Linked DNA regions of Homo sapiens: all the other regions are linked to region 3. Evidence: fine-mapped expression QTL. A gene starts in region 3. Each other region holds a variant in brackets. All regions are shown on one strand. Distances are from middle to middle. Region 1 overlaps LOC105377306 (a long non-coding RNA gene). Region 2 has its middle 250 kb from the start of RASGEF1B. Region 3 holds the start of RASGEF1B (RasGEF domain family member 1B).

What was found. PIP is the estimated chance that this variant, and not a neighbour inherited with it, causes the effect.
Region 1: its variant is fine-mapped to the expression of RASGEF1B in whole blood (GTEx, PIP above 0.99).
Region 2: its variant is fine-mapped to the expression of RASGEF1B in cerebellar hemisphere (GTEx, PIP above 0.99).

The regions. Positions count from the first base shown.
Region 1 is chr4:81,500,718-81,511,063 of GRCh38, forward strand. LOC105377306 (a long non-coding RNA gene) reads left to right here. Exons shown (of 3, transcript XR_938933.3): 3 at 595-720. Among named protein-coding and RNA genes, the nearest start is that of RASGEF1B, 34 kb to the left of the region's middle. RefSeq lists a silencer at 4,667-4,786. The variant G/C (reference allele first, on the strand shown) is at 4,695.
Region 2 is chr4:81,717,678-81,728,023 of GRCh38, forward strand. No RefSeq gene overlaps it. Among named protein-coding and RNA genes, the nearest start is that of RASGEF1B, 250 kb to the left of the region's middle. The variant G/A (reference allele first, on the strand shown) is at 5,180.
Region 3 is chr4:81,466,766-81,476,850 of GRCh38, forward strand. RASGEF1B (RasGEF domain family member 1B) reads right to left here and starts at 5,142. Exons shown (of 14, transcript NM_152545.3): 1 at 5,005-5,142. RefSeq lists a silencer at 5,074-5,483.

The DNA of each region.
Region 1 (10,346 bases), 34 kb after region 3:
ACTTTTTCTTCTGAGAATATCAGATTCTTTCCAAATACTGGCTGGCAAATGCCATCTTTGTGCCATGAATTTCTGAAAGCCAATTTGTGGATCTATACACAGAAAATTATTAGGAAAGAACACCATAGTAGTCTTTGTTGCTAGAATCTGTTCACTGAGCAATGGCAAAGCTATTAACATGCTTGATATTAACCTGCTAAGTGAGTCAGAGAGCTGCTTCCATTCTGTTTTAAGCAGAGCTTGTTTTGGATCAGAAACCTGTAATCTACACAGGTAATGCTGAAGTTAACATCAAAATAAGAGGGACAGAGCTGTTTCTGTGAATGCCACACATTTTCTTGAGTGAAATATGAGTCAATATGACTGCACTTGGGAAACAAAAGAAGAATTAAAATAGGTCTAACAGAAGGTCAAGGTAGTCTGATGAAAGGGTCAGGAAGATGTTTCCTTTGGGCATATTCTGTGGCTCATGAATCTCCTGACATCTTCTGGGGCTAAGAGCCCACATCTTTCTCATTCCTCCATCTGGGCACTGTTAGGACTAGGGGGTGTCACAGAAAACGGTTGCTAGTTGCACAGTGATTCCTTCTGCAGATTGTCTTCATTTCCTTGTTGATTGGTTTGAACCTGGGGTCATTATCTCTGCTTTGCAAATGAAGAAGAGAAAGAAGCTCAAAAAGGACAAGAAACTTTCCCCAAATCGAACAGGTAGTAAGTGATAAAGGCCTAAAATGAACCTGGGTCTTGACTCCTGGGTTGGTGTGTTTCAATCATGTTAACTCCCAGCCCCAGGAAGCTTGGTGAATATTACCAGAGATAGGACATAGCAAATCTGGAAGGACAATGACTACCTGACCAGGGCCAAAAGAGCCGACTGTCTATGACCGTGATTATGCTAACTAATAAGTATCTGAGCAGAAACAGCAAAATCTGTTCTAATCTACCAAAAGAGGCTGCTGAGATGGGCAGGGTGGCTCCCTTCAGACTGAACTCATTCCTTCACAAGCACGCAGGAGAATCAGGGCCAGCCAAGTGGTGCCTGTGGGAGGCGTTTGAGGATGGGTGGCCAGGGAAAGTGAGAGTTTTTAAACTAAATCAAGTGGCTCTTCTGGGTTTGCTCCGAACCTTGAATGTTTTAAGAGTATGGGCTTTGGAGTCGGGGGACCTGAGTTCTGCACCTCACTAGCTGCTTAGGCTGGGCTAAGTTTAGTTAACTAAATCTCATTCTCTTCATTTGTAAAATAGTAATGACAACCATATCTTCCTCAAAGGCTTGTCGTGACAAACTGAGATGAGGTTTGTCAAGTGTTCAGCACAGAAAATGCTCAACATCTCCCTCTGGATGTCCAGCAGTTACTTCAAATGCATCCCCCAAGGCAGTTCATCTTCCATGTAACTATAATAATCACAGTAAAAAGCTACTGGGAGCTGTCTGTGTTCTGTGATTTACACTTATTATCTTATTTAATCCTGCAGTTAGGAATTATTTTTTACTTTTACAGATGGGGTAACTGAAGCTCAGAGAGATTGACCAACCTGCCCAAAGTTTCACAGCTGTTAAATGTCAGACCAGACTTTGAAGCTAGGGTCATCTGATGCCAAAGCCCACTCTGGGCTAAACCACCTTGCCCTTACCAGAGATGAGTACACAGGAACTTTGATTTTCTTTTTTCCCTTGGTTTCACATTCACACAATGAGGAATTCTTCCCCTGCTGTTCTATCTCATGGGGATCTTTTACATCTTGTCCAACCTTTGCATTCACTCTGCCTACCTGACTTCAGGACCAGTTTTGCATCTGCTGGACACCGTGAACTGCTTCTGCATGGCATAAACTGCTTTCTGAATGCCCCTTCCTCCACCCAAGTCCTTTTTCTAGTTCACCTCCACCTACCGTAGTGCTGCCCGATTAACCCCCTAAAGGCTAGCTTTCATCATGTCTCTGCAGAAAACTTTCAATGACTCCCCACTGTCTGCTGCCTACTAGTTAGCCTGGCAGTCAAGGTCTGGTTCCTCCACAAATGCACAACTTAGCTTTTCAGTTCTCACTACTTCTTTTATATACTCAGCAGAATGCAGATGCCATGACGACAGAAATGTGTACCCTTTCTTCACTGCAACATCCCCAACACCTAGAATAAGGCCCTGTTTATACTAAGTGCTCATTAAATATTTGTTGAAGTATGAACTGAATGATTTTTTTGCAGCCAAAATTATTGTATTTTCTTCCCACCGTGTTTTACTGTAAAGACATTGAAAGACATGAAATCTGCTTTCTTTTTTTGAAGCTGCTGGTATATTTTTTAGAAATGAAGAAAAGCCAAAACAAGATTTGAAAAATTTGATATATTTTCAAAGGTAACATTTATCAAATTAATGCTTTTAGTGTCTACAAAACACAATGTCACATAATTGTGCTATTCAAAGATAATTACAGGGTCTATAAAAATACTCATTCCTAGTCATCACAGGCAGTGTGATCCAGTACTGGAATAGTTTAAAATAGGGTGACATAGGACGTCTTTAGCATTGCCAATGTATGCATTACTGAGTCAGGGTATAAACTTTTCTGTGGGCCCTCCTGAATGTGGCCTGGAACTAATGGTTCTGTGGCCCCACCACATGTCCTCACGCCCTATATTCATGCATTCCTCTCCTTCCCTTCCATCTGCCCACCTTCATACTCCATCTATCCTTCAAAGACAACTAAATGTCTCTCTCCCATCTTTTTCTAGAGCTCCTTCACCAGAATAATTTGCTTATTCTTCTGGCTTTCCCATAGCAATTTAATTGTAGGTTCATATGTGTTTATGATTTATTATTTTAGTTATATAAATTTTCACTAGGTTCATGGGAACAGAACCCATCATCTATTTCTGATGTATCTTTGTACCCACTCTCTGCCTACTGCTTTGTATCACGTCATGTCCACAGATGCTCAATATATATTTTTGAATAAATAAATGAATGTGGCAATGTAGGTAAAAATAACAGATGGCTGAAGTCTCGGCATTAGGCATTTGGCTGACTTTACCAGTTGGCGGAGGGAGTAGGGGAGAAGGGAACTGTGTCTGACAGAGGGTTAGCAGATGAGAGGCAGCAAATCTTGAAAAGCAGCATGGCCTGCTGATTAAGGATCAGTCTTCAGGCTGACTGCTTGGGTTCAGATACTAGCTCTGTCTCTCATTTGTTGTATAAGCTTTAGATAACAGATGATAGTTTTACGTACCTAATAGGTTTTGTTGTGAAGATCAGATGAGCTTATAAATGTTAAGTGGTGATTCTTATTGTGGTAGATTGCAATATTGTTTCAAATATTTTGCTACCTTTCATGTTAAAACACACACACACAGACACACACAGACACACACACACACAAAAGACACACACAGGCACACACAGACACACACACACAGACAGACACAGACACACACCCACACAGACACACACACAGACACACACACACACAGACACACACACAGACACACACACACAGACACACACAGACACAGACACACAGACACACACACAGACACAAACACACAGACACAGACACACACAGACACACACAGACACACACACAGACACACACGCAGACGCACACACACACTGACACACACAGACACACACAGACACACACACACACAGACACACACACAGAGACACACACACACACACACAGACACACATCTGTCTTAGCTGCTGTTCTGGCTGCTATAGCAAATTGCCATAGACTGGATGGCTTAAAAAACAAACATTTATTTTTTAAACTTCTGGAAGCTGGAAGTCTGAGATCATGATGCCAGCATACTTGGGTTCTGGCGAGGGCCCTCTTCTGTCCTTGTGTCCTCATATGGCAGAGACAGGATGACTTCTCCTTGTGTCCTCATGGCAGAGAGAGGATGAGAGAGATCTCTTGGGTCTCTTTAATAAGAGCACTAATCCCATTCACGAAGCCCCCACCCCCATGACCTGATCAACTCCCAAAGGTCCCACCTTCTAATACTATCACATTAGGGATTAGGATTTTAACCTATGAATTCTGAGGGAACAGAAATATTTAGTCTGCTAGTCTGCTGCATTATCCCTGGCTACTGTCATGTGACTTGCTGTGTTCCTTTCATTGACATCAGGCTTGGCCATGTGACTTGCCGTGATCAGTGGCATTTGAGTGGAAATGACATATGCCCTGACTGAGCAAAGGCTTTCTGGGCCATTGCGCCCTTTTCTGTCTGCCACAAGAATGACATATCTCAAATAGGGTCTTCTCATTCACCCTGATCCTGCACTGAAGAAGCCATTTGGAGGAGTCTCACCCATCACAACCACCTACAACCTCTGTTATTGTAAACTACTAAGATTTGGGGGTTATTGCTGTAACACAGCCTGGTGAAAGCTGACTAATAGCCCAGTGTAAGGAAGTACTCAATCCATGTAAAGCCCTTAGAACAGTTCCTGGAACATAATAAGGGCAAAACAATGATTATCATAGTCGATGCACTGACTTTTGATACACTTCCTAATTTGCACTTACTTGTCTGAAATTAAAAGCCTCATCCTTGGAGTCTTCCAAATATTCTGTCACAGACAATCATCTGACTAAGAGTTGGAAGGCGTGGGTTCCGGTTCTGACTCTGCCCTGTGACGGCGCTCACGGGACATGTTCTTTCTGTTTCCTCACAGATAATTGTCAAA[G/C]TTCCTTCTAGTTCAAAGAAGTTTCTGAGTCTGCAGACAAGCAGCTGTTGGAACCGTCCACATCAGGAAACAAGTGTTAGCTCTACCAGTCACAAAGCTGGGTGATTTGTGCACCTTAGCTTCTCCGTCCTTTTCTTCCTTCAGAGGTTTATGTGAGGCTTTAGCCATTGCCAGTTTTCAAAGAAATGGCATTTTTATAGGCTCCTGCAGCAAGACAATGTTTGTTTTTTTTCCCATTAAGTTGGGGCGCAAAACTCTTAGCCAGAGGAAAAAGTGGTTCCCTAAAAAAGTGAAATTCATGCTTTACAGGGGTTATGAAAAAATCTTTGGCTAACCAAGTATTCTCTAGCATAAAAGTACCAAAACCAACCAAGCAACCAAACAAAAAGCCGGGTACAATCAGAGAAGAAAGCAAGGCTGCCATGGTGAGCAGAGCTCTGGCCTGAGAACCAAAGCCCTGGGTCCCAGCCTGTTTCTGCAGTTAGTCGGCCAGGTGACCTTGGGTAATCACTCATTTCTTTCTATATGTAATAATAAAGGATCTCCAGACTCCTGTCTAGCACTAGCTAATATTTCATCACTATGACTCCATCAGAGTTAACTGACAGGGTTGTTTTTTACAGGCTTTAAGTGGCAGTTCTCTTAATTTGCAGAGTAGGGGAAATATAATAAAGAGGGAAATGTTTACAGGGGAGCCCAGCCCACACTAATCTTCTGAATTGGTAATAAATTTTGATCCTAAAGGAGGAATAAAAGAAAGAACTAGATTTATAATCATTTAACAAGCAAACATTATATGATTTATCAGAAGAACAGGTAGTCTAGTATCTAGTATCTTTTCCTGCCCATCCTCGGGGATTTTCTGTTTCAACTAAGGAGAGCTGATCTCTGCCATATTTCTCCCAGTTCTGTTGCAATGTATCCAAGGCAGGGCTGAGATCAGCCAGAGGTCTGCCAAATAGAGTGTAGGTACCAAAGTTTGCCCATGGATTGATGTATCATTGGTTTCAAAAACCAGGTCCTCCTCCCATCCCAGCACCTTGGGATGACAGGTGCCTGCTGTTCCCAAGTCTCTGGCTTCAGCAGAAGAGACAAAGAGTCCAGCTTCCAGGCCCCTCCTTTTCCTAGATTCCCACCATCATCCTTCCTCAGCCTGGCCCACTCTTGCATGTGAGCAGAGATGGCTCCAAGATTGGCTTTGGTAAATATACAATCTAAATAAGAACATAAGCTTCAATACAGGTTCCTAGGGAGCCCCTACCCCACTTTAAGAACATATTATCTTTACCACATAGAGATTCTATGATGGTCAGAACTTGTGAAAGCCCACCCCCAGCCTCAGAAGGGCATGCCAGAAGAATGGGTCATGAAGGTGCCCTGTTCGAATCTCCCTGTGGGAGGGCCTATTGTGTGGGGCATAGTTGATTCATAGTCTTCAGCTGTTGTACCTTGGATTGACTGCAGCGTTCACTTCCAGGTCACACTTCCCCAGGCTGCCCCAGTCAATGACTGAGTACAGTGGTGGGTGCTAGAGCTGGGCCATTCCTGCCTAAAGGGGGATTCCTCAAATGGGTGCCTTTGGTTCAGGGACTCTCCATCAGGCTGGCCACAACTCTCAGAACTGCACTTTGGTCTGAAGCACTTTCTACTCAATCCTTTCTTCTGTTTCTCCTTTCATAGGTCTCAGAGCTGCATCATGGGCTGCAGGCTTCCTCCACCTCCTCCAGCTCCCTCCACTTTGTCCTTTATCTTTCACAGGCTCTTCTCTTAGTAAACCACTTGCACTTCTAATTCCAGTTGGCATCTGTCTCTTACAGAAGCAGGGTATGATGCTTTTAAGTCTGTATGCCTGGCCCACTGTATTAGCCAGGGTTCAGAGAAACAGAAGCAATATGATATATCTGTATATGTAGATATAGCCTATAGATATATAGATATATCTATATGTGCAGATATGTAGATATAGCCTATCAGTCTACAGGATATACATATAGACATACATATAGACACACACACACACACACACACACACACACACATACACACACTATAAGGAATTGGATCATGCAATTACAAAAGCTGAAAACTCCCTAGATCTGTATTCAGTAAGCTGGAGACCCAGGAGGGCCAATGTGTAGTTCCGGTCCAAAAGCCACCAGGCTCAAGACCCAAAAGGAGCTTGTGTTTCAGTCCAATTCTGAAAGTCAGAAGGGACTAATGTTCCAGCTCAAGGCAGTAGGTGAGAGGAGTTCCCTCCCACTCCTGGGAGGGTCAGCCCTTTTGTTCTAGTCAGGCCTTCAACTGATTAAATGAGGCCCACCCACAACAGGGAGGGCAATCTGATTCCCTCAGTCTATCAATCAGTTCAAATGTTAATCTCATCCCCAAACACTCACAGACCCATCCAGAATAATGCTTGGCCAGAAATCTGGGAAACCATGCCCCATTCAAGGTAATGCAGAAAATTAATCATCACACTCACCTAGTGCAGCAGTTAATCAGTTAAATCACTTCTGCTGAAGTCATGCATACCAGTCAAGTTCTCATACTGCAAGAGGCATTTATGTTTACATCTGTCTCTAAAAAGTCTGTGAATGCCTGGAAGGTGGGAATCATGTCTTATTCATTTTTAGATCCTAAATACAGAGTGGAAGTTCAATAACTTATATTTATTGAGTTTCTCCTATGTGCCATGCACAAGGTGCTAGGGGTATAGCAATAAATGAAACAGGCCAGGTCCTTGTCCTCAGAGACCTACATTTAGGTAACAGAGAGAAACAAAAATAAAACAATTGAACATACAATATAATGGACTGGTGATACGTGTGACAAGAGGAGAATAAAGCCTGGCAAGGGGATAGAAAAGAATAGAGAAGTATCATTTTACATAGGTGTTCAGAGAAGGCTTGAATGAATAACTGAATAGATGACAGAAATTATTAATGCAGGTATCAGCAAAGTTGTTCAAGTGTGTTGGGGTAAGCAGAATTCAGAGGCACACAGAACAGAAGAAAGGCCTCCTCCCCACACCAGGGAATCAGCTCAACTAAATTGTTACTTCTCCCAGCTGTGGCTTTATACTGTTCTTCTTTGCCTTCCTCACTTCTATTTTAACAACTTTTTTTTCTTTTTAACAGAGTGGGCACAGAGTGCCTTTTTAAAGGGACTTCCTTACTGCAGTAAGTTTTAAGTCAATGTTATTGCTACACTGACCTTCTTCAACATGAGGGCTTAGGGCCAGTTTCCACTTCTGAAGAAATTCCTCTAAAAGTAGTACTCTGGAGACACTTCAGTAAATGAAGATAGACTTGGCAAAGAAATTCCAAGCCTACAGGCAGATAATTAAGAGAGATTTTCAAAGCCGAGGGGGAAATCAAAGACCATTATGTATGTATGGTTTGCACTAAACCACTTTTATTACAAATTGAGCTCCATACAGCTGTGCAGCAATTGAAGAGGAGACTATACAGCCAGTGAAGGAATGACAGCCATGTGGATGCCAATTTTCTAGTAGTAGCCTACAGAAGCCACACGTAAGTTAGGTTTCACAGCTTGTCATGAGTAATTTCAAAAACCAAAGTAGATGATGTTATTACAGGTCTAAGAAGAAAATGATGATGTAGCAAATGAGGGGGAAAAAAATCAAAATTTCCCATTCCCTCTTAGACCTCCCTACTCAATTCCTTCCTCTCAACAGGGATGTGGTAAAATGAATAAGATTTTGTGTAGAGCCATCTGAAGTGTTTGAGAGGTTTAGTGGAAGAGTCTGGGCTTCGGAACCAGGCAATAGAAATACAATTTATTTCACCCACTTATGAGCTGTGTAGTCCCAGGCAAGTTATTGAGTCTCTCAAGCTCCACTTCTCTTGACTATAAAATACCTACTGGAGTTGTCATGGTGATCACGTGAGACAGGGCAAGAAAAGTGCCTGGCACAGATAGGTGCTCAATGAACAATTTGTTTTCTTGGGAAGGAAGTTACTTAAGAAATCCAAATTAGCATTTGTCACAGTTTCTCATCAAGAACAGGGATTACAAAATCAAGTATCTCTGGTAAGCCTAGTAAGCCTACAGAAGAATTTGTGGTTTGTATTGGGAGGAAACAACTGTGGCAAACTGGAGGGCCCGTATCTACCCAAAGACGGCAACTAAAGGATTTATGCCTGATAAAAGGGGATCCCATCTCTCCTTTGAAAGGTGGCTACTGGAAGCCTTGCCTCATAGAGAGGGGACAGTTGCTGCTAGCTCCTCTCTGGGGATAGTACAGACCCCATACTGGGAGATTTTTTTTAAAAAAGAATCTCCAAATCCATATTTCTATGTGAAACTTCCAGGTCACATACAGTGGTTCCTAATTCAATTAATAAAAAACATGTAACTGAGCATGGTGGCTCTCTCCTGTAATCCCAGGGCTTTGGGAGGCTGAGGTGGGATAATCAGTTGAGGCCAGGAGTTCAAGAACACCCTGGGTAACATAGCAAGACCCTATCTGTAAAAAGAAAAAAAAAATAGCTGGATGTGGTTGTGCATGCCCGTAGTCCCAGCTGCTGGCGAGGCTGAGGTAGGAGGCTCACTTGTGCCCACGAAGTCGAGCTGTGACCACACCACTGCACTCCAGCCCGGGTGACAGAACGAAACCCTGTCTAAAAAAAAAAAAGAAAAAAGAAAAAAAAAACAAAAACAGGCAGACCACAAAAGTATCTGGGCAGGCATGATGTGGCCTATGGGCTACCAGTTTGCAACTTCTGGAAAAGGAACATTTCGTGATTACATTTTCATTCATTGTATAATAAAATATTTTAGTTTAAAAATAATTCTTCAAATAATTCCACCAAGAGCAAAGAAGCCAACATACAAATAAATTTCTTCTTGTATATTTCTATTTCTAGGACATCAAGGACCCAAAATAAACTTTAAAACCTATGAAGGAGTTTGTTGGTATTTATTCCTCAGGGGTCAGCTGATTGCTGATGGGCAGAGAGTTCAATAGTAATGCATAGGAAAAGACAAATTGATCCCTGCTGATAAAGCTGTTTTCTGTGTATGTGCTCATAAAATGTGATGTCCCCACCCTGCCCCGGATTCTATTGGTAGCACAGAGGGGTCAAAGCATTAATGAATAGTCCATGAGATTGTTTCCTTCAGATTTTAAGAGAGAGGGCAGAAAGACCTTAGAAGAAATTATTTCATGTTTAGAAAAATCTTCCTATTGGCTCCAGATTAGCTTCACAATGACAAAGAATGTTCCAGAGAAGAGCTGACTGGAAACTATCAGTGGCTGAAAAGTATTAAGCCACCAATATTTTAATTAACTTGTTCCACTCCATTTCTGGGCTTACCACAGAGGAAGAAAAGAAATTGTATTTCAATATAAAAAGTCACAGTAAATGTTAAGCTCCATGTTTGATTGACAGTCACCCACACACCCACATACACTAAAACTAGCAGCTATAAATTTGAAGCATTTGTAAGACCCAGGGGATTTCTAGAGTGTGTGACAATCCAGATATATGTGCCTCGTTTACCCACAGAAGCGGTCTCCTGTGGGGGAAATGTACTGTGACATCCATTTTGATAGGTAACAGGCACATTAAGATGGAATTACCTCAGCTGGAATATGACTGTGATAACAGGAATAGAGAAACACTGGAC
Region 2 (10,346 bases), 250 kb after region 3:
GGGGCACCCAGATTCATAAAGCAAGTTCTTAGAACCTACAAAGAGACTTAGACTCCCACACAATAATAATGGGAGACTTTAACACCCCACTGTCAATATTAGACAGATCAACGAGACACAAAATTAAAAAGAATATTCAGGACTTGAACTCAGCTCTGGACCAAGCAGACGTAATAGATGTCTACAGAACTCTCCACCCCAAATCAACAGAATATACATTCTTCTCAGCACCACATTGCACTTATTCTAAAATTGACCACATAATTGGAAGTAAAACACTCGTCAGCAAATGCAAAAGACTGGAAATCATAACAAACAGTCTCTCAGACAACAGTGCAATCAAATTAGAATTCAAGATGAAGAAACTCACTCAAAACTGCACAACTACATGAAAACTGAACAACCAGCTCCTGAATGACTACTGAGTAAATAACAAAATTAAGGCAGAAATCAATGTTATTTGAAACCAATGAGAACAAAGACACAATGCACCAAAAACTCTGGAACACAGCTAAAGCAGTGTATAGACGGACATTTGTAGCAATAAATGTCCACAGGAGAAAGCAGGAAAGATCTAAAAATCGACACTCTAATATCACAATTAAAAGAACTAGAGAAGCAAGAGCAAACAAATTCAAAAACTAGTAGAAGACAAGGAATAAATAAGATCAGAGAAGAACTGAAGGAGATACAGACACAGAAAACCCTTCAAAAAACCAATGAATCCAGGAGCTGGTTTTTTGAAAAGATTAACAAAACAGACCACTAGCCAGACTAATAAAGAAAAGAGAGAAGAATCAAATAGACATAATAAAAAATGATAAAGAAGAGATCACCACTGATCCCACAGAAATACAAAGTACCATCAGAGAATATTATAAGCACCTCTATGCAAATAAACTAGAAAATCTAGAACAAATGGATTCCTGGACACATACACCCTCCCACGACTAAATCAGGAAGAAGTTGAACCACTGAACAGACCAATAACAAGTTCTGAAATTGAGGCAGTAATTAATAGCCTACCAACCAAAAAAAAAAAAAACACCCAGGACAAGACAGATTCACAGCCAAATTCGACCAGAAGTACAAAGAGGAACTGGTATCATTCCTTCTGAAACTATTCCCAACAATAGCAAAAGAAGGACTCCTCCCTAACTCATTTTATGAGGCCAGCATCATTCTGATACCAAAACCTGTCAGAGACACAACAAAAAAAGAAAATTTCAGGCCAATATCCCTGTTGAACATCGATGCGAAAATCCTCAAGAAAATACTGGCAAACTGAATCCAGCAGCACATCAAAAAGCTTATTCACCACAATCAAATCGGCTTCATCCCTGGGATGCAGGGCTGGGTCAACATATGCAAATCAATAAACATAATCCATCACATAAACAGAACCAATGACAAAAACCACATGATTATCTTAATGGATGCAGAAAAGGCCTTTGATAAAATTCAACACCCTTTCATGCTAAACACTCTCAATAAACTAGGTATTGATGGAACATATCTCAAAATAATAAGAGATATTTATGTCAGACCCACAACCAATATCATACTGAATGGGCAAAAGCTGGAAGCATTCCCTTCAAAAACCAGCACAAGACAAGGATGCCCTCTCTCACCACTCCTATTCAACATAGTATTGGAAGTTCTGGCTAGGGAAATCAGGCAAGAGAAAGAAATAAAGGGTATTCAAATGGGAAGAGAGGAAGTCACATTGTCTCTGCTTGCAGATGACATGATTGTATATTTAAAAACCCCATCATCTCAGCCCCAAAACTCCTTAAGCTGATAAGCAACTTCAGCAAAGTCTCAGAATACAAAATCAATGTGCAAAAATCACAAGCATTCCTATACACCAATAACAGACAAACAGAGAGCCAAATCATGAGTGAACTCCCACTCACAATTGCTAAAAAGAGAATAAAATATCTAGGAATACAACTTACAAGGGATGTGAAGGACCTCTTCAAGGAGAACTACAAACCACTGCTCAAGGAAATAAGAGAGGACAGAAACAAATGGAAAAACATTCCATGCTCACGGATAGGAAGAATCAATATCGTGAAAATGGCCATACTGCCCAAAGTAATTTTTAGATTCAATGCTATCCCCATCAAGATACGACTGACTTTTTTCACAGAATTAGAAAAAACTACTTTAAATTTCATATGAAACCAAAAAAAGAGCCCGTATAGCCAAGAAAATCCTAAGCAAAAAGAACAGAGCTGGAGGCATCATGATACCTGACTTCAAGCTACACTACAAGGCTATAGTAACAAAAACACCATGGTACTGGTACCCAAACAGATATATAGACCAATGGTACAGTATAGAGGCCTCAGAAATAATGCTACACATCTACAACCATCTAATCTTTAACAAATCTGACAAAAACAAGCAATGGGGAAATGATTCCCTATTTAATAAATGGTGTTGGGAATACTGGCTGGCCATATGCAGAAAACTGAAAGTGGACCCCTTCCTTACACCTTATACAAAAAGCAACTCAAGACGGATTAAATACTTAAATGTAAGACCTAACACCATAAAAACCCTGGAAGAAAACCTAGGACATAGGCATGGACAAAGAGTTCATGACTAAAACACCAAAAGCAATGGCAACAAAACCCAAAATTGACAAATGGGATCTAATTAAACTAGGAGCTTCTGGACAGCAAAAGAAACTATCATCAGAGTGAACAGGCAACCTACAGAATGGGAGAAAATTTCTGCAATTTATCCATCGGACAAAGGGCTAATACCCAGAATCTACAAGGAACTTAAACAAATTTACAAGAAAAAAACAAACAAACAGTCGAGGAACAGTGGCTCACGCCTATAATTCCAGCACTTTGGGAGGCTGAGGCGGGCAGATCACCTGAGGTCAGGAGTTTGAGACCAGCCTGGCCAATATGGTGAAACCCTGTCTCTACTAAAAAATACAAAAATTAGCTGGGCATGGTGGCAGGTGCCTTAATCCCAGCTACTTGGGAGGTAGAGGCAGGAGAATCATTTGAACCCGGGAGGTGGAGGTTGCAATGAGCTGAGATCGAGCCATTGCACTCAAGCCCAGGGGACAAGAGCGAGACTTCTCTCAAAACAAAAACAACAACAAAAACAAACAAACAAAAAACCATCAAAAAGTGGGCAAAGGATATGAACAGACATTTCTCAAAAGAAGACATTTATGCAGCCAAGAAACATATGAAAAAAATTCATCATCACTGGTCATTAGAGAAATGCAAATCAAAACCACAATAAGATACCATCTCACGCCAGTTAGAATGGCGATCATTAAAAAGTCAGGAAACAACAGATGCTGGAGAGGATGTGGAGAAATAGGAATGCTTTTATACTGTTGGTGAGAATGTAAATTAGTTCAACCATTGTGGAAGACAATGTGGCAATTTCTCGAGGATCTAGAACCAGAAATACCATTTGACCCAGCAATCCCATTACTGGGTATATACCCAAAGGATTATAAATCATTCTACTATAAAAACACACACACACACGTATGTTTATTGCAGCACCATTCACAATAGCAAAGACTTGGAACCAACCCAAATGCCCATCAATTATAGACTGGATAAAGAAAATGTGGCACATATACACCATGGAATACTAAGCAGCCATAAAAAAGAATGAGTTCATGTGCTTTGCAGGAACACGGATGAAGCTGGAAATCATCATTCTAAGCAAAGTAACATGAGAACAGAAAACCAAACACCGCATCTTCTCACTCATAAGTGGGAGTTGAACAATGAGAACACATGGACACAGGGAGGGAAACATCACGCACTGGGGCCTGTTGAGGGGTGGGGGGCTAGGGGAGGGATAGCATTAGGATAAATACCTAATGTAAATGACAGGTTGATGGGTGCAGCACACCACCATGGCACGAGTATACCTATGTGACAAACCTGCATGTTCTGCACATGTATCCCAGAACTTACAGTATAGTTTAAAAAGAAAGAAGAATTAATACATATAAAATGCTTAGAACACAACAACTCAATAAATGCTAGCTATTGTTGTTACTACTATTTTTAGAGACAAGGTCTTACTCTGTCACCCAGGCCAGAGTGTAGTAGCACAATCTCTGCTCACTGCAGCCTCAAACTTCTGGGCTTAAGTGATCCTCCCACCTTAGCCTCCCAAGTATCTAGGACTATAAGTACATGCCACCACATCTGGCTAAGTTTATTTTATTTTTTGTAGAGACACACCCTATGTTGCCCAGGCTGGTTTTGAACTCCTGGCTTCTAATGATCCTCCCACGTTGGCCTCCCAAAATGCTGGGATTACAGGCAGAAATGATAGTACCCTGCCAATTCTAGCTATGATTATTGTACGGTAAGGTGAAAAGCTTTGTGTCCCCTCCCAAAATATGGACAGTTGCACACAGCATAAGAAAACAATGTTCATGTTCCCCTGTCTTCGTCCCTCCATCAAAAATACAAAATAATAAATGATGTTTAATTTTAATGTCTAATTCAAAACAAAATTTAAATGCACTTTTTCTAACCATCCCAGACAAGTATTCAAGTAATATGTGCCTCCCCTGTCAGGATAGCCTGTCTTGGGGCTCTCACCTTCTGCCCTTAGTACAAGAGATGAGAATGGCAGGCCAAGGTGTCCTGGGAGTAATTCATCCCTGAGTGACAGCTGGTGCTGTCAAGAGTCGTTATTGCTGGTGCGCACAGACCTTCTGGCAAAGCCAGGCGAAACACAGAAACTGCAGTCTCCCTGCCCACCTGTCAGCCTCGTCCAGGAACAGCAGAGAAATTTGCTTTTCTTCCTTCAAAGGGTCCAGCAAGCCCTAGCACCCTTATTAATGCATGCCTCTTCAGTCCCAGCCTGCCTCCCTACCCTCCCTGAACACAGACTTCCCAACCTATTCTTCCAAGAAGGGGATTAGCTCAATTAATCTCTGGACAAATGTCAAGGAGTCTGGGGGAGGGGGCACCTTTCAAGTGCCGCGCCCCAAATAGCAAATAAAGCCAGACATGCGCTGAGGCCACACCGCACAAGGGTGAGCTGCAGCAGCTGCCAACAGGATAGACCGAGTCCTTTTAATGTCAGGCTTAGCTTCCCAGGGGCTCACTTTCTTGCCAGCCTGTTCTGACAGACCACAAGCACCAGGCTCTCAAGTTCTCCTCTCACC[G/A]TCTGGGACGGGGGTAGTCGCAGGAAAGCTGCTTCGGGATCAGAATCCATTTTTGAGGCAAACGTTGCTCTCCTCTCATCTCCTGTGTTGCTGCCTTCTGTGCTTGCCCTCTCCTCTCTGGGCCCACCTGCCTCCCCCACCTTCAAAGGGCAGGCACTCCCCTCCAAAGCATGGTTAAAAAAAGATAGTTCCTAGGTTCAGAGTAAGGAAACCAAGTAGGCAAAAAAGCCACAGGGAGAAAAGCCAGGAATGGGTGGGAGTGGAGGAAATTCTCATTATCTAAACACAAAATTATTTTCCCCCAACCATAAGTTTCATCAACCTGATCCACAGAATTTTGGGAAAAGCCCTGAGAGTGCTTTCTCTTTGATCTAATTCCCAGAAAGACTTCATTCAATCCATCCAAGGGAGTGACTGAACTGGTAATAATTCTCTAGAATAGAGATTTCCCAATTGCTCTATGCTCATTCCAATTTTTTCATTTGTAAGGTATTTTCTATTAGTTTAATCCTTCTCTGTCTCTTTCTCCCTTCCTCTTCCTTTTCCCCTCTCTCCCTCTCCCCCTCTCTCTCCTTAGCCAGCAAAATCTGGCCTAACCAGCAGGCTATTAAACAGCACTTCCACATGCTACAGTCCAATGATTTGGTAATTAATTTTCATAATGATGATCTGGAAGGATTTCTACAGCCTCTTGAAAGATCCAAGAAAATATATACCCTACTGGTTATACATATGCTTTGAGTGTGAGAGGTAGCCTGGGTGTCCAGTTCTGGTGGTGTCATTTACTAGCTGTGTGGCCTCGGGCACGTTACTTAACCTCTCTGCCTATTACCATTTCCTCATCTGTGATACGAGGATACAAAGTTTATTAAGAAAGATAGCAGTTAACACTCTAGTTATGAAATATGTCCTATGAACCAGACACTATGCCAATTGATTTGCCTGAATTATTTTATTTAACCCTCACAACAACTGCTGAGTCAATATTAAGGGGATTTCATCACAGTCTCATTTGTTCAATATTAGCAATACACATATTGTACCTATGGTGACTATAAACCAGAATATCTAATTAATGTAAACATCTCATTTCCTCACTAGAAGAAGACACAGGCAGTCTACTTCAATTATTATCCAAAGCTCTTCTGTTCAGATGCGCTTTTGAATTCAGAAAATTTTTGGACTTTAGAAAGACAATATGGTTCATATAACAAACAGAACACACTGGTCTGGGGCAGCATCCTGTAACTGAACGCATTAACATTTCTGCTCTGAAACATGAATCTTCTCCCTAAAGAGAACAACACAGAGCTTCCTGTCATCTCAAAACAGGTTTTGTTACCAAAAGTCATTCAGAACAGGTAGTTTTACCATCAAATAAGTTAGAAAAGAAAAAAATAAATAAACTTAGGCTATTGTTTGTATTTCAAAATTTCAGATAGGACATTGTGAACTTTATTACACAAAAGCACTAAATAAAGAATCAAGATTCTAGTCCTGGCTCTAGTAGTAACCGCTGTGTAATTGTGGGCAAATTGCCAAGGTGCTCTGGTTTCAGATTCTTCATCTACAAAATAGGTGACTACTACTTTCTCCTAAGTTATACAGAAGTAGCTGTGAAGATCAAATGAGATAGAATTCATCAAAGTATTTTGAATAAGTGAAGTGTTTACCAAATTCAAGCTGTTTATTATCTTTTAAAATGATTTTTTCAATGATTATAGATTTAATTATGCACTACTGCTTCTTGTTTGAATGGCACAGTGTTGCTTACATGGGAAAAGATTCCCCAATTAAATCTCCTTTTTGCATGTATCACTGCTGTTGTTTCTTATACATCAATAAAGATCAGCAAATACATGATGACTGCACTACTGAAATATTTCTCTGGGTTAAACTACAAGAATCACCTCTAGGAAATAATGATAAGCTGCTGTGTCAAATCACTGCAGTTACTGAATACCTGAAAGACCATTTTTTTGTTTTGAAGAAGCAAGCTGTTCAAGTGTCAGGTTGATTTTAACCTGATTTTACAACTTCTTAAAAATCTGCTCATGTCTTCCTTTTCTGGGCGGTCTATGAAGACAGCATTGGCCTGGGAGTTTGATGATCCAGTTGCTAGTCCCAGCCTGACCTCTAATGTTCTGTGTCATCTAGGACAAGTCACAACACCTCTGAGATGAACTCTCCAAGTCCCTGAGCCTAGTCAGACTTTGGGAGGCAAGAGAGGGTTCACTGCTCCTATTTGTTGTCCCCAACAGAAGACTTTCAAGCCCTGGTTGTTCACAGGATTCAAGCCCTGGTTGTTCCTGCCACACACTCCTGGCTGGCTGGGAGCTGCCTTTGCACTGATATCAATCACATGTTGCTGATGTCAGCCCAGCTGTGACAGCTGAGGCCACCACCACCCACAGCTGACTGAGTGAGTCACATCTGCCTGCTTTCTCTTTGACATGAACCTCTCGGAAGCCCAGGGACAGAGCCCATAACCTGCTTCTCCCTTTGCAGCTCTTTATATTCTTTCAGCTTGCACAGTCTCCATGGCTGAGTGATTTGTCCCATTAGCCATGGTTTTACAAAATTAACCATGAATGTTCTCCAGCATCCGTGGTAACCTTTCTGCCAAGGAGCAATTATAACTATAAGATATCTTCTTTTGATGTTGACTTTTACAAACAGAGGATCCCTGGCAATTAAAATGCAATGAGGTGGTTATCTCATTAAAAAAATTATAAATACTCCCTTTCATAGAGACGAAGGACACATTAAGTAACCTTTACTATATAATAAAGCTGGTAATTATTATCAATAACAGAAGGACATTCTGTGTTTTAAAATCCAAGGTCCATGACATATGTGAAATGGTAGGGTAAATGTAATATAGAAAAAAAAAAAACACTAGACTTAGAACCTGAACTTTCCTTGCCCCCAAGGAGGCTGTGATCAAACAGATGAGGCAAAAATATAAAGCGATTATATTATTATATTTATTATATAAAATAATATGTAGGGGTGGAGCAAGATGGCTGAAAAATACTCTCTAGCAATTGTCTCCCCACAGGAACACCAAATTGAACAATTATCCATAAAAGAAAGCACTTCAGCAAGAAGAGTAAAAGATAAACCTACCAAAAATAACAACTATGACTGCTTTTTAAGTGATAGACAACATAAAAGACATAAAAAGAGACAAGAAAAAGTCTAAAAGCAGGATAGGAATTAAAATGTGGAGTGTTTCAGTTTTCTCTTTGCTTGTTTGTAAGCAGAGTTAAGTTGTCATCAGCTTAAAATAATTGGTTATAAGATGTTATTTGTAAGCCTTGTGGCAACCACAAGACTTAAACCTATGGTAGATACACAAAAAATAAAAAGCAAGAAATTAAAAAAATACTACCAGAGAAAATCACTGTTACACAAAGGAAGACAAGAAGGAAGAAAGAAAGGAAGAGGACCAACAAAACAACCAGAAAAGAAAATGGCAATAGTGAAGTCCTTACCTTCAATGATAACATTGAATGTAAATGAACTATATTTTCCCATCCAAAGACAGAGTGGCTGAATGGATAAAAATAGGACTCAACCATATGTTGCCTACAAGAAAATCACTCCACCTATAAAGACATGCATAGACTGAAAATAAAAGGTGGGAAAAAATATTTCATACAAATGTAAACCAGAAAACAGCAAAAGTAGCTCTACATTTATATCACATAAAATATATTTCCAGACCAAAACTGTAAAAAGAGACAAGGTCATTATTAAATGATAAAGGGGCCAATTCGGCAAGAAGATATAACAGTTCTAATTATATATAAGTCAAATGCTGGAGCACTCAGATATACAAAGCAAATATTATTAAAGCTAAAGAGAGGCATATACCCCAATGCAAAATTAGCTGAGAATTTCAACACCCAACTTTCAGCATTGGATAATCATATATACAGAAAATCAACAAAGAAACGCTGAACTTTATCTACACTATGGACCAAATGAACCTAATAGCTATTTACAGAATATTTCATCCAATAGCTACAAAATATTCATTCTTCTCATTGGTACATTGAACATTCTCAAGGATAGATCATATGTTAAGCCACAAAACGAGTCTAAAAAAATTCAAAACAAATAAAATCATACCAAGTATGTTTTCTAAATATGATAAAACCAAACTAGAAATCAATAACAAGTGGAACTTTGGAAACTGTATAAACACATGGAAATCAAATAATATGATCCTGAACAACCATTAGGTCAATGAAGAAATTAAAAAGAAAATTTAAAAAATTTTTTGAATCAAATGAAAAATGAAAACACAATGTACCAAAATCTATGGGATATAGCAAAAGCAGAGGTAAGAGGGAAGCTTATAGCAATAAACATCTACATCAAAAAGGGAGAAAAGCTTTAAATAAACAACCTAATAATGCACCTTAATGAAGAACTAGAAAAGCAAGAGCAAACCAAATTCAAAATCATTAGAAATAAAGAAATAAAGATCAGAGTAAAAATAAATAAAATTGAGACTAAAAAAATACTAAACACCCACAAAATGAAAAATTGTTTTTTTGAAAACATAAGCAAACTTGACAAACCTTTAGCAAGATTAACTACGAAAAAAAGAGAGCAGACCCAAGTAAATAAAATCGAAATGAAAAGAAAGACATTATAACTGATACCACAGAAATTTGAAGTATCATTACAGACTATTATGAGAAACTATATGCCAATACATGGGAATGTCTATAAGAAATGGATAAATTCCTAGACACATACAACCTACCAAGATTGAACCATAAAGAAATCCAAAACCTGAATAGACAAATAACAAGTAATGAGATACAAGCAATAATAAAAAAAGTCTCCCATCAAAGTAAAGCCCAGGATTTTATGGCTTCACCACTGAATTCTAACAAACATTTAAAGAATTACTTACACCAATCCTACTCAAACTATTCAAAAAAAAATCGAGGAGGAGGGAAATCTATCCAAACTCATTCTACAAGGTTGGTATTACCTTAATACCAAAACCAGACAAAAGCACAACAATAAAAGAAAACTAGAGGTCAATATCCCTGATGAACATAGATGCAAACATCCTCAACAAAATACTAGCAAACTAAATTGAGCAACACAGTGAAAACATCATTCATCATGATCAAGTGGGATT
Region 3 (10,085 bases):
AAAAAAAAGAAAGAAAGAAAGAAAGAAAGAAAGAAAGAAAGAAAGAAAGAAAGAAAGAAAATTTCCAGATTATCTTCCCATTTCTGTCCTCAGTCAGAAGACGTCCTAAATCAGAGATTTCTAACAGCATCTCTGGAAACTGCAGAAATGCTACACCTCTGCTTACCTCCTTAAAAAAAAAAAAAAAAAAGAAAAAAAAGGTATTGTATTGAGAGGGCAAACAACACAGAGAAGACAACTCAGAGTCAACTCACTTCTTTGGTATGTGAACAGACAGAAACTCCAAGACTCCAAGATAAGTACCTTCTTTGAAAGTGAGTCCCACATGCTTAGTAGATTTCACAGTTAAGGGAGGAAAAAAAAATCAGTATTTTTGAGGAAGGAAGATCCTATTTCTCTCGCAATGAAACAGTGATATTATTTCCTGATTTATCAGCATCCATACAAAAAGTTAATTTCCATTCTGCTTGATTTGTCTTAGATGCTGCTTAAATATTTCATACTAATTCCTAATTGTTGGAGGAAGGGGATTCTGACTCAAATAGTTTACTATCTTTGGTTTCCTTGGAAGAAAAACAAAGCTAAGATTTGTCATCTTTTGTCTTGGGGATGTGTTGTTAGCAGTTTATTAAACCACAAATGACATTTCGGCACATAACCTGGAGAGTCAATTAAAACTCTTCTATGAAATAAATCTTTACTGTGTGGGAACTGAACCCAGGACATATTGAATGTAAAGAATGTAATGCATACATTCTTTATGCATTAACTTTTTAGCTACATCTTCCATGCAGTTCCTAAACCGGACAGTAGATGGCTCCTCGTTCCTTGTCTTTCAAAGAGTTGGCACTTTGTAGCAGTAACAGTGCTGGTTTAGAAAAGCAAAAGGATAACTAGAGTTATGGGGAAAATATATTGAGAAACTGGTATTTGTGATCTTGGCATATTATTGAACTATACAGCTCATACTGTACAGGTGAAGACGTACTGGCTAATAATGCCATTTGGTCATAATGCCTTACATTGTAGGTGCTCATCTATAATGAGAATTAAATATTTCATTTTCCTGGAAGAATAAAAATGATCTTCTGGATAATCAAAATCATCATTACCTAATTGAGTGCTGTCAAAAAGAACTTTCTGGGATACTGAAAATGTTTTTCTTTTGCACAATCCAATACAGCAGCCACTAGCCACAAGTGACTTACTTAGCACTTAAAATGTGGCTTATTGCAACTGAAAAACTAAATTTTAAATTTTGTTTAATTTAAATAAACTTAAGTTTAAATATTCCCATATGACTAGTGGCTACCATACTGAACAGCACAGATATGAGTAGCTGAATCATCATTTATACAAGGTAGATCTCAACCCAAATTAGATAATAGCATGTGGAGAACATTCTTTAATGAAAGGTTTTATTTTTCTACACCTAATTCATCTCAGGAAAATGATCTGATACCTAATGAGGATGTTTATTAAAAAGTAGAGTTTTCTATTTATATTTTAGTATATAACATGGTTACTGGGATAATTTTCCAGCTGTGAGTTTTTGAAAAACTATATTCATCCCTTCCCATTTTTCTCTTTTAGATCAATAGAAAGATATTGGTAGTCCAGGCTAATTTGTACTTTCTCTGGGTTAAACTAATTTTCTAAGCAGGGTTTCCTAATAAAGTTTGAATCAACTGAATGATTTCCAGACATAGGCATATCCTGAAATGAAATAATAAATATAAACCTAAGAAAAAATGATTGTTGAAGACAAATTTAAAAATTTAGTGGATAGTAATATTGATTTAATAGGCCAAAAAATAATCTGACACCAATCTTTTTGATAATCATTTTTAATATTCATACCTAAAGAAAAACAAAGCAAAAAGCAGTTTAATATTAAATTTCTACATGAATTCATAAATAAAAAAGAAATTTCACTCTCCTCTCTTCATTTCCATGTACCCAGAAAGTAGGTGAACACCTAACTGCAAATCACTTGTCCCTTCATTAGTCCACCTCTAAGACAGGGTGTAAATGCATGAAGCGATAGTACAACAAAATAAAGCAGTTATGACAGACCTAAAGAAACTCATAAATCATTCTGTTCAACTCCCCACAGTCGTTTTATAGACACTGCAGGCATAGAGAAAAAATAAATCACTGATTAGGGCTCCAGATCAACCAGAACCCAAGTCTCCTTATTTCCAAGGCAGAAATATGCCACAGCACTAGGCTATAACATCTGTCACTTTAGGATAAGCAAAGGTTGCATGGATCTTTTTTGTAGTTTTAACTGGAGAATCAAAAAGGACAACTATAGGTCTGAAAAAGTGAGGGGGGTGGGCTGGCAATACCTGAATTCAACTACTACTAATAAAAATCCCATAAATCTTAAACAGCATTTTTAACAGTGCAATTGGCCTCTTTAAGAAGTCACAAAATGTTTTCACAGCTTTTTCATTTATTATGTGTGGCATCAGAATCAAGTTTCCCAATCCCTGCTTCAAGGATTCTAGATTCTTCTCCCAAGCAAAGAAAAAGACATTCCATTCACCCATCTCCTTTCCAAGGAGGTGCTCTCCTGGGGCTATCCCAATGTTCCTCCCAAGTCCAATTCTTCCAGGTACTCTGCGGATATTGACAAAGCTGATCCCAACACTCCTGAGTCATACTAGGGATCCCAGCTCCTCCCCTTCAATTTTCTTACCATGTCTTTTTCCTTAGAAAGGTGTATTGAATTGTTTTTATATAGTCTATTGTACTCTATTAACTAGTAGTTAATTTTAGGTTCTAAGAATAAAATGTTATATAAGAACTATGTGTTATTATAATACTTTGATTTAGTTATACATATAAATACATATGTATATATGTACATATATGTGTATATATACACACACACACACACACATATAAATAATCTATTAGATGCTAAGCTGTAGGGGGTTAGCGGGAGACAATACATGGGAATGCTTTCTGGTGATTCTCTTCTCCAAAAGACAGTATGATTCCCAGGTATTAGATGTGTTAGTATCAGATAAAATATCCAGTGGAGCACATAAAATGAAGCAAGACTGAAAATGCACCATAGGAGAAATAAATTCTAAGAATGTAACACTTCGTTAGACAACTGGAAAGTACAAGGCCAATATGCTTAGTAGTTAGAAATGTTGCCCACCTCCAAGAAAACAAAGGATTGACCCGACATGCAGTGGAAGAATGCCAACAAGAAACTTGTTAATCAGTGGCTGATCTCATCTTCACCAGAAAATCTGCTTGAGAGGCATAATATAACGCTGTTTGTAAACCCTGATATCTGTCAAAAGTGCCCTAAGGTCCTCCTCTCTAGCTCCACCACTGCCCCTCACTTAAAAAAATAAAATTACCTTTAATGATAGGGTTTAACAAGCTGCCTTCTTTTTTTCTGTTATGAAAACCTCAACAGCAAATAATTTTTATTTCTTTTTATTAAAGAAAGCAACTCTATATTTGTTCTAAATCTCATGGGACCAGTTATTTTCACCCAAACGGCCAACCAGGTATATACGCTGCTTAACTGTAAACCTCCTTGTTTCTTAGCAGAGGCTTATCGCCATGGTCCAACTATGTTTTAAATTAAGGCATAGCCATCACATGCCAAGCTCTAGCTACTGTTTTCACGAGGAAAGGGCAATTATTCACCCCATCTGAGTGTGACTGTGCCAGACATCATTCAAGAGTGCACCACCCTGATCCCTAGACTCTTCCCCTTTATGCACCCAGTTCAGAGACCCTCCCTTCGGCCATTAGACCATCTGAGCTAAATATAGATCTACACACACCAGCAGTTCCTGACCGTCGTCACATGGTGCTGACGAAGGACTCCTTGGAGACGCGTTCGGCCCAAACACATACACAAATTTGTGTGCATATTCATCTATATACACCATATCCACCGAATTCATCAGGGAGGATGGACACATCTACATTCCGAAGAGAAAATCGCCGTCTAGACAATCTCCTTGTGTTATCTGCCACACTTGTGCCACCCTCGGCAGTGTCAGAGGATTAAGCTACGTTGCTTTTGCCTGAACTGCGCCGATTTGGTTGGGGCAAGACAGCAAGCAGTATTGAAATGGTACGTCCATACACACACACAAAGGCGCGCGCACCCCAGCCCCCGTCTCGCCCTTTTCCCTGGTGCAGCACTTAAGTTGTTTTCACAGCTCCCTTAGAAAGAACCTCCCTTAAGCTGACTGCCCGCGAGGCTCCTAGATACCTCTAGCTCATCTGAGATTCCCCAGGCAGGTGACCCGAGGCGACTCAACTGAGCTCTGGCAAAAGCAAGGCGACTCAGTGTCTCCCAAGTTTGCCAGGTGAACACCGAAGGATGACAGCACATCACCTTGTCGGTGGCGAGTATGTGACTTCTGTTCCCTTGTCCCTTCCTACGAGTCAGACTTTAGATTACATGGCACTGACAACAAAAATAAACAGCTCCCCCTACACACACACGCACACAAAACTGGTCAAGAAGTGGAAGAATCAACCTAGGTATGCACACGAAGGAAAGAAGGGATGAAAAAAATGATGGACGCGATTACAACTCAAGACAAATCCTCAAAAACCACCTATCTCGAGACAGAAGGCCTGGCTGCAGGATCAGGGAGAAAGAGGGAAGGCACAACCCAACCCAACCCAAGCCTGGCCCTGCCCGGGTCCCAGCGGCTCGGCCTCGCACCTGTTGGGGCCGCGGCAGTCCCAGGTACCCGCAGCGGCCGGGCAGGGGCCCTCCCCCGGTCCCGGGCTGTAACTCGGCTCTTGGCGCCCGCGTTCGCGCTCACTCGCCTCGGGATCTCCCGCCGCCTCGGAGCGCACCCGGCAGCCGGTGAAGTCTCTGAGCCCCGCTCGCTCCCCGCGCGGCCCAGGGATCTCCAGGGAGAGCGCAGCGCGCAGTAGGGTCCGGAGTTCCCGCTCCGGGCTGTGGTCCCCCAGCCGGGAGAACAACCCAGCCAGGGAACAACCTACCTGCAGGTGAACTCCGAGTCCTCGGCCTCCCGGCTGCGTGCCGCGCGCCCACAAATGCGACCAAAGGACAGGGAGCTAAAGCGCGCGGGAAGAAGAAAAACAAAATCTGTCTAACCAGTCGGGTTCCTTGTTTATACTGAAACTACGGCAGCCGCCGCCGCGCACGCCCCCCTTGGCTCAGGCGCCTGCCTCCCGCTGCCAGCCCCGCCCCGCCCCGGCAGGCGCGGGCCAATCACCGCGCAGCTCACCGCCCACGCCGCCGCCACCCGGCCCGGCAGGCAAGTCCCAGTGGGCCCCAGACTCCCGCAGCGCGTCAGCCTGGGTGCCCTCCCACGCGGCAGAGGCCCGCGGAGCCCAGCGCAGCGGTGTTTAACAGCGTTGGTCAGGCTGGCTCCGACTGTGCGCGTTTCCTCTTGAGTGCACCTGCCCCGGGCTGTTGTGCAGTCGTGAGTGTGTGTGTGTTCATTCACGTGTATACTATCTGTAAATACCGGCCCGACTCGTTACACAGTATTTATTAACATAATTGTGAGCTAAAGGTTACTGTCCATGTAACTTTCAGAAGAGAGCGGAGAGGAACCACAGAACATTTGCTTAGCAAATAACACATAGATCCTGGTGCTAAGCACTGTGCAAAACGCTGGGGGCACACTTGGCAAAGTAGGCTGGTCTCTGCCATTGTGAAACTTACATAGTCTAGTGGAGGACAGACATTCAGCAAATAATCACCCAAACAAAATGTAGAATTACAGCTGCTAGAAGTTGCACGGAGAGGAACCTGTTCCGTGAAACATGATTCCGGAGGCAAAGCAGGGAGGCTAGTCCTCAGTGAGGGCTGTGTTGTCATGGTAACCACGTACTCACTCCATCATGGGATATTTGATAACTATTTCAGAAAAAAGGTAAAAACCTCCGTACTTCACTTTGTACACATAAAAGGAGGCCAGAGGGAAATAATGATGGAAACAAGGGAAGAAAGAGACCTATGAAAAGAAAAAATTTACAGAATTAGGAGACTCTTACCAACTGTATTTCCTTGAGTAAGTGATACAGCTTTTCTGAGCTTCAGTTTTCTCATATATAAAACAACACTATTCATACCTGTCCTATACTGTTATAATTAAGATTACTGAGGGGGAGGAATCCTTTTCCCTCCTGCTCCATGGGTCCCTCCCCCTCTCCTTCCTGGGGTGGAGTCATTTTGACGCTCACTTTGTCTATTCTTAGCGGATTCCTCTTTCATTTTCTTCATTTATGCCTCCTTTTACTTTTCTTCCTCTTTATGATACTCCTTCCCTCCTTTGTGTAAATAGGACTCCTCTGATTCAGTAATTCACTCTAACCTACTTGAGCCTTTGACTTAACCATAGCTTCTCTGCAGTTTAAATGAGAAGCCATAAGGCCAAGGGAACTTGGTGGGCCAGCCATGCAGAGTGAAACACAGAGGCTGGGTGGCCCTGCCCTGCTGTTGTGGTTGTACTGGTTGGTTGATTTTTCAAGCTCAGTTTTTGCATCCCGATTCTGTAACAAACGAGCCATATGACATTGGGCCAGTCACTTACACCCTTGACATTACTGATCCTGTAGCCAGAAATTAAGAGTTGCAGGGGATTGCTGGCAAGATGGCTGAATAGGAACAGCTCCAGTCTGCAGCTCGTAGCGAGATTCACACAGAAAGCATGTGACTTCTGCATTTCCAACTGAGGTACCCAGTTCATCTCACTGGGACTGGTTGGACAGTGGGTGCAGCCCACGGGGAGTGAGCTGAAGCACGGTGGGGCATCGCCTCACCCGAGAAGTGCAAGGGGTTGGGGAATTTTCTCCTCTACCCAAGGGAAACCATGAGGGACTGAGCCTGAGGAACTCCAGCACAGATACTGTGCTTGTGCCAGTTTTCGCAACCCACAAACCAGGAGATTCCTTCCAGTGCCTACCCCACCAGGGCCCTGGGTTTCAAGCACAAAACTGGGTGGCCATTTGGGCAGACACCGAACTAGCTACAGGAGTTCTTTTTTTTTCCATACCCCAGTGGCGCCTGGAACACCAGCGAGACAGAACCGTTCACTCTCCTAGAAAGGGTTGCTGAAGCCAGGGAGCCAAGTGGTCTGGCTCAGCCGGTCCCACCCCAATGGAGCCCAGCAAACTAAGATCCACTGGCTTGAAATTCTCACTGCCAGCACAGCAGCAGTCTGAGATCAACCCAGGACACTCGAGCTTGGTGGGAGGAGGGGCATCCACCATTGTTGAGGCTTGAGTAGGCAGTTTTACACTCACAGTGTAAACAAAGCCTCTGGGAAGTTGGAACCGGGCAGAGCCTACTGCAGCTCAGCAAGCCTGCTGTGGCCAGACTGCCAAATTTCCCTTCTCTGGGCAGGGCATCTCTGAAAAAAGGCAGCAGCCCCAGTCAGGGACTTATAGATAAAACGCCCGCCTCCCTGGAACAGAGCACCTGGGGAAAGGGGCGGTTGTGGGCGCAGCTTCAGTAGTCTTAAACGTCTGCCTGACAGCTCTGAAGAGAACAGCAGATCTCCCAGCACAGCGTTCAAGCTCTGCTAAGGGTCAGACTGCCTCCTCAAGAGGGTCCCTGACCCTCGTGTATCCTGACTGGGGGACACCTCCCAGTAGGGGCTGACAGACACCTCCTACAGGAGAGCTCTGGCTGGCATCTGGCAGGTGCCCCTCTGGGACAAAGCTTCCAGAGGAAAGATCAGTCTTTGCTGTTCTGCAGCCTCCACTGTGATATCCAGGTAAACAGGGTCGGGAGTGGACCTCCAGCAAACTCCAGCAAACCAGCAGCAGAGGGGCGTGTCAGAAGGAAAACTAAAAACCAGGAATAGCACGTCCACTGAAAAACCCCATCCGAACATCACCGACGTCAAGGACCAAAGGTAGATAAATCCACAAAGATGAGGAAAAACCAGTGCAAAAAAGGCTGAAAATTCCAAATCCAGAACACCTCTTCTCATCCAAAGGATCACAGCTCCTCACCAGCAAGGGAACAAAACTGAATGGAGAATGAATTTGACGAATTGACAGAAGTAGGCTTCAGAAAGTGGATAATAAACTCCTCTGTGCTAAAGGAGCATGGTCTGACCCAGTGCAAGAAAGCCAAGAACCTGGAGAAAAGGTTAGATGAATTGCTAACTAGAATAACCAGTGTAGAGAAAAACATAAATGATGTGACAGAGCTGAAAAACACAGGATGAGAACTTTGTGAAGCATACACAAGTATCAATAGCCAAATCCATCAAGTAGAAGAAAGGATATCAGAGACTGGAGATCAACTTAATGAAATAAAGAGAGAAGACAAGATTAGAGAAAAAAGAATAAAAAGAACACACAAAGCCTCCAAGAAATATGGGACTATGTGAAAAGACCAAATCTACGTTTGATTGGTGTACCTGAAAGTGACTAGGAGAATGGAATCAAGTTGGAAAACACTCTGCAGGATATTATCCAGGAGAACTTCCTCAACCTAGCAAGGCAGGCCAACATTCAAATTCAGGAAATACAGAGACACCACAAAGATACTCCTCGAGAAGAGCAACCCCAAGACACATACTTATCAGATTCACCAAGGTTGAAATAAAGGAAAAAATGTTAAGGGCAACCAGAGAGAAAGGTCGGGTTACCCACAAAGGGAAGCCCATCAGACTAACAGCAGATCTCTCTGCAGAAACCCTACAAGCCAGAAGAGAGTGGGGACCAATATTCAACATTTTTTTTTTTTAGATGGAGTCTCGCTTTGTCACCCAGGCTGGAGTGCAGTGGCATGATCTCAGCTCACTGCAGCCTCCACCTCCCAGGTTCAAGCAATTCTCCTGCCTCAGCCTCCCAGGTAGCTGGGATTATAGGCCTGTGCCACCACACCCAGCTAATTTTTTTTTGTATTTTTAGTAAAGATGGGGTTTCACTATGTTGGCCAGGCTGGTCTCGAACTCCTGACCTCCAGTGATCCACCCACCTCAGCCTCCCAGAGTGCTGGGATTACAGGCGTGAGCCACCGTGCCCAGCCTCAACATTCTTAAAGAAAATAATTTTCAACCCAGAATTTCACATCCAGCCAAACTAAGCTTCATAAGCGAAGGAGAAATAAAATCCTCTATAGACAAGCAAATGCTGAGAGATTTTGTCACTCCAGGCCTGCCTTACAAGAGCTCCTGAAGGAAGCACTAAACATGGAAAGGAACAACCAGTACCAGCCACTGCAAAAACATACCAAATTGTAAAGAACACCAATACTGTGAAGAAACTGCAACAACTAAAGGGCAAAACAACCAGCCAGCATCATAATGACAGGATCAAATTCACACATAACAATATTAACCTTAAATGTAAACAGGCTACATGCCCTGATTAAAAGACACAGACTGGCAAATTGGAAAAGGAGTCAAGACCCAACAGGGTACTGTATTCAGGAGACCCATCTCACGTGCAGAGACACACACAGGCTCAAAATAAAGGGATGGAGGAAGATCTATCAAGCAAATGGAAAACAAAAAGAAAAAGCAGGAGTTGCAATCCTAATCTCTGATAAAACAGACTTTATACCAACAAAGATCAAAAGAGACAAAGAAGGGCATAACGTATTGGTAAACGGATCAATGCAGGGAGAAGAACTGACTATTCTAAATATATATGCACCCAATACAGGAGCACCCAGATTCATAAAGCAAGTTCTTAGAGACCTACAAAGAGACTTAGACTCCCACACAATAATAGTGGGAGACTTTAACACCCCACTGTCAATATTAGAAAGATCAACCAGACAGAAAATTAACAAGGATATTCAGGACTTGAACTCAGCTTGGACCAAGTGGACCTAATAGAATTTATAGAACTCTCCACCCCGAATCAACAGAATATACATTCTTCTCAGCACCTCATCGCACTTATTCTAGTATTGACCACATGATTGGAAGTAAAACACTCCTCAGCAAATCCAAAAGAACGGAAATCATAACAGTCTCTCAGACCACAGTGCAATCAAATTAGAACTCAGGATTAAGAAACTCACTCAAAACTGCACAACTACATGGAAACTGAACAACCTGCTCCTGAATGACTACTGGGTAAATAAT